Linked DNA regions of Homo sapiens: region 2 is linked to region 1. The links come from fine-mapping of genetic effects on gene expression. Tissue or cell type: sun-exposed skin. Region 1 holds a variant in brackets; the other region holds the start of a gene. All regions are shown on one strand. Distances are from middle to middle.

The links. PIP is the estimated chance that this variant, and not a neighbour inherited with it, causes the effect.
Region 2: SPINK1 starts here. The variant in region 1 is the best candidate, but not a certain one, in a credible set for the expression of SPINK1 in sun-exposed skin (GTEx, PIP 0.54).

The regions. Positions count from the first base shown.
Region 1 is chr5:147,904,975-147,907,744 of GRCh38, reverse strand. C5orf46 (chromosome 5 open reading frame 46) reads left to right here and starts at 1,207. Exons shown (of 4, transcript NM_206966.3): 1 at 1,207-1,313. The coding sequence starts at 1,244. The variant C/T (reference allele first, on the strand shown) is at 1,254.
Region 2 is chr5:147,830,203-147,832,817 of GRCh38, reverse strand. SPINK1 (serine peptidase inhibitor Kazal type 1) reads left to right here and starts at 1,147. Exons shown (of 4, transcript NM_001379610.1): 1 at 1,147-1,295. The coding sequence starts at 1,241. LOC124901101 (a long non-coding RNA gene) reads right to left here and starts at 2,313. Exons shown (of 2, transcript XR_007058987.1): 1 at 1,948-2,313; 2 at 1,207-1,409.

The DNA of each region.
Region 1 (2,770 bases):
GGCAGGAGAATCACTTGAACCAGGGAGTCGGAGGTTGCAGTGAACTGAGATCGCGCCACTGCACTCCAGCCTGGCAACAGAGCGAGACTCAGTCTCAAAAAAAAAAAAAAAAAAAAAGAAAGAAAGAAACCTAGGTGACAGGTTGATCTGTGCAGCAAATCATCATCATGGCACATGTTTCCCTATGTAACAAACCTGCACATCCTGCTGGCTACATGTGTAGCCTGGAACTTCAAATAAAAGTTGATGGAAAAAAAAGAGAAAAATAAAAGTAAAATAAATAAGACAGTTTATGTTGTCGTTTTCTGTTTGTTTTGAGACAGAGTCTCACTCTGTCACCCAGGCTGGAGTGCAGTGGTGTGATCTCCGCTCACTGCAATCTCCGCCTCCCAGGGTTCAAGCGATTCTCCTGCCTCAGCCTCCCAAGTAGTTGGGATTACAGGTATCTGCCACTACGACCAGCTAATTTTTTGTATTTTTAGTAGAGACGGGGTTTCACCATGTTGGCCAGGATGGTCTTGAACTCCTGACTTCGTGATTCGCCCACCTCAGCCTCCCAAAGTGCTTGGATTATAGGTGTGAGCCACCGCGCCCAGCCAACACTTAGTTCTTATACAATGGGGTCAAGTGTGCTATAGGGCAGATGATGAAGTAACAAACTGCCTGGAGAAGGGTGGAGTGGTTATCATGAAGGTATCACAAAGAAGGACCATTTGAACTGAGGAATACGTAGGAGTGATCCGAAGGGAGACAAGGAGGAGGGTATCTGAGGAAGAAGGAAGAGCAAGAGCAGACGCATGGGGTGTGAAAGGGCATGCCCATGTGGGAACAAGGGATTGTCCCAGAGCACGAGGGAAGGCATAGAGTGTAAAGGGAGGGTGTAGGCTTGCCTTGCCAATCTGATTTGTTGCCTGCTGCTTGGCACTGACGAGCAATTCTACCTGATATCCCTTTAATTATCAATGCTGGCCTTGAAACTAGCCTCAAGAGATTCACTCCAGAACCCTTTATAGATACAAATTTTAAAAATCAAGAGGGTTTTTCTTTCCCTATATGTAAAATGTTTGGTTTGAATGATAGGGTATGTCTCATTAGTACAGATCCAAAAGCAAGCTGTGCAGACATCTTGTGCAACAATCTAAATTCCAAAGCAGATGATGTCACCTATCTATGCCCTATAAATGGAGCATTGTTTCACATGTATCTGAACAATTTATCTGCACGAATACCCCGTGCTACCAGAATGGCTGTCT[C/T]AGTACTTCGCCTGACAGTTGTCCTGGGACTGCTTGTCTTATTCCTGACCTGCTATGCAGGTAAGTGCTTCTGATCACAGCCCATGAATTGTTCAGTAGTTAGCAGTGACTAGAGAAAGCTGATGGCACTGATTCAGAACATAAAAGAAAGAAGGGGTCTTTGGGCACTCCAGAAAGAGCACTGGCCTGGGAGACAAGAGGTGTATCTTCTAACACAAAGAAAGTAGAATTTTAATAAAAACCTAGCCTCTATTTTCAGTGGATGTATGAAGTTTGAAATTTTTTTATGTGCTCTTATGATATAATGACACTATTCTAGTATAAATTCCATGGGAGCTGACTGGCATTTATTTTTTGATAATTATTCCTAATAATGTTCATTGGTGAAGAATATGTACTCTGGAATAAAACTCCTGTACCTGGCTCTACCACTAACCAGAAATGTGACTTTAGGAATGCTATTCAATCTCTCTAGGCCTCACATATAAATGGGGACATTTAACTTTCTCGTAAAGTTATCATGAAAATTAAATAAAAGGAATGAAACAAATTGGAAGGGTACCTGGTTGATAGTAAGCATGCAATAAATACTACCTGCTATTGTTGTCATGTATAATCTCATTTGGTTCTCATAGTAATCCAATGATGTAAACATGTACAGTTTTATCATTTTCCTTTTTGCAGGTTAATAAACAGGTTGCAGAGGGCAAGTTACTTGAGCATACATACAGGTGAAAGTGGCATCTGGGAGTGAAACCTAGGTTCCTAGATTCTTTCTACTATTATCGAGCAACTATTTCTTTCCCACCTTTTCCAAGCACATAGAAGCTCATGCTGTATGCTGCCTTCTCATTAATTAATTTACTGTTTGTCTGCAAAAGTCTGTGAGCTCCATTCAGAATGATAGACCAGAAAACAGAGGGAGTGCAAACATTTAGTGACAGAATCCTTTGAATGTAACTTGGCTGAAGAACACACAGACAGACATTACAACAGAATTACTCTAGACATGGCCACGGATATTATTCAGTCCATTCTACTCCTAAAGAAATCACTACAGTGAAGTGAAAGGAGAGATTTGATACCAAGACCAGGCACCACCCTGTCTCTTATAAACTCTGAAACTGGTTAAATCGTTCACTGCTTTGAACCTCAGTTTCTTTATCTGTAAAACGGGATAACTATCAACTTCACCAGGTCAAATGAATATGCTTTTTAATTACTTTGTAAACTATTAAAACTCTACAAATATCAGCAATACTGTTTATTAAGAACATTATATTCACATTCACTAAGAAACTCAACAAAGTAGTTACTGTAAATAAAGGCTATCCCATATAATACTTGAAAAAAGAAAATATTAAACTATTGACTTTGAAGATTGTTTCTAGGATATCAATCGTTTAATATTTTAATAGCATTTTTAAAATTTATATTATCTTCTAAAGCACTAGAGGAGAAAGTGAATTATAAATCATTTTGCTGCTATTATTATTAATAGTAACAATAAAACAGAT
Region 2 (2,615 bases), 75 kb after region 1:
TCCTACTTGGAAGCTAAGAAGTTAGCCTGCCACATTATAATGGTTTCTGGCAGAAGGCACAGACTCCTGGCTCAGAGAAAAGGGACTTAATTATTCCATAGCAACAGCCAGAGTATTGGAATTTGTTCTGGTTTCCCAAGCCCCAATTTCCACAGGCCAATTTAAGGGGCATCAAGTGATAGTTGCAGGGAAAGTACAGTGTGTTAAAGGAAAGAAAGGCCAAGCTTTTAAAAACCCGAAATCTTTTGTAAAGGGCAATTAACATGGTCTTTGCCCTAGAAGGAGATATTAACTTTATTACACTAAACAGTAAACAAACCTGCCTTTTGGTGCAGAGGGAGACATTACGTATTTTCTAAGGTCGTTTGTTATATAAACACCCTTAAAAAGATAGTCTGAAACAAAGGTTATCAGTACCTCTACTCATAAGACACACCAAAACATGAGAGAGGATGGAGAATTCTCTTCTAATAACACATGGTAGATATCCAGCACATATTCTCTTTTACCCAGCACATATTCTCAGATGAAAGAGTAACCCTTTGAATTAGGTGTTATTATTATTTTAATTTCCAGATGAATACACAGAAGCACAGCAAAAGTGGCTCCAACAAGCACCCTCTAGCTCCAGAATACACGCTTTAGGGAACTGAGTCCTCTCTCTCTCTTGCTTTCTCTTTCCCTCTCATCTGCCACTCCATCAGCTACTTTAGGTTTTGTGAATGAGTGAGGGAAAAATAGAGAAAAGAGAAAGAAGAATAAGAAAGGAAGAGTGGAGGAAAGGAAAAAAGAATGGAGAGGTTTTACCCTACTTGGAATAAAATTCTTTCTAGTAGCTATCCATACCTGCTCATCTATCCAGAACTACAGAGTAGAAGGGATCTTTGAGTTCATCTTACAGGTGAGAAAACAGGCTTGAGAAGGGAATGACTTTCCCACAACCACAGAGGGAGTTAGGGATCAAACTAACCACTAGAACTATTTTCCTGACAGAATCTTTGCCTTGCATGTTTCAGGCCCACCTGGCTCCTTTCACCTTTCTTACACAGGTGACATTCCCAGAACCTGGAGGCCAGGCTATGACACAGAGTCAATCAATAACCAGGGAGATCTGTGATATAGCCCAGTAGGTGGGGCCTTGCTGCCATCTGCCATATGACCCTTCCAGTCCCAGGCTTCTGAAGAGACGTGGTAAGTGCGGTGCAGTTTTCAACTGACCTCTGGACGCAGAACTTCAGCCATGAAGGTAACAGGCATCTTTCTTCTCAGTGCCTTGGCCCTGTTGAGTCTATCTGGTAAGTGTTGCATATTTTTCAAATTTAAATAAAACTGTTTTGACCTGTTGCTTTGTGAAGCACATTATCTTCTAGACTTTTGATGTAGTCTAGTCTTCGAGAGATGTTTTGGACCTAATGAGATGAAATAAAATCAACAGGTAAGAATTATTTTTTAAGAGGAATTTTTAACCTACTATAAGGAAAACAATTCTACTAGTAAGAAATTCCCAGAAATAAAATGGTTTTCCTCTATTGATGTGGCTGACCCTTTGTTGGGATATGGTAGAGAAAAAAGGGTAAAAATATTTTAACTTTAAGTATACTTCTCATTCTGTAAATGTGTAAGGCCAAATTACAAATTTTAAATTCTCATGGGATTGCATAAAATAGATAAATGGCTTCCAGTTATTCAGTATAAAAGGCATAATTTGACTGATTAAAAATTTATTTTTTTATTGTATAGGTTTCAGTGTACTTGAATCATGTATAGTTTGTCAGATTTATCCCTGAATAGCTAATATATGTGATATAAAGGGAATTTTTTATTTTCAATTCCTGGTATTTCTTATTAGTATCTGGAAATACAAAAATTGCATTTTGTGTATTTACATTACACATTTTGAATGTTTTGAAAGAAAATATTCTGCTTGAATAGATGGTGCACATATACCTCCAACTGCATCTTGACAATGTTGACAGACAACTCTGAACCCGCAGAGCCAAGATCAGTTTCCTTTTTATCACTGGAAATGGTTAACATTTTCAACTTCACCTCTCATGTAGTGAAGGATCCTGTGGAGAGCCAAATCAGCACTTTGCTAAGAAGAGGAAGAATATTGTTTGTTTTATTTGCTGAATATTTATGGCAACAGTCAGTGTTCCCTTTCCCCCTCCTCATGCATGTTAATTAATACAAATAGATGCCTGTGATGAGCACCTGCTCTTCAGTTTTTAGACTCAACTAGATTCTAAAAGCCAGTGGGCCCCCAACAACATCAAGTTCTGACTATCCCGGGGGAAATTCTCCAAGCTCATAGATGCCTCACTAATTTTCATTACATTTAGATACAAAGAACTACCTCTTTGCTCAGATCACCTCAAAGATTGATGATATTAAAATTAATTTTCAGGAATGTTTCCTTATTTGATTGCTATCATATTAGTTCCCTTTCCCTTCCATGAACTTATCCACAGTTATCATTTCCTATATGTTGTCAGCAAAACCTCTGCTATTTTCTGGGGGAATAGAGATTAGCTATTTTGACTACCTGTAAATTCAACAAATGTGAGTTAGACCCATAGTCCATATGATGCAATTGTTGGAAATAGCTCTTTGGG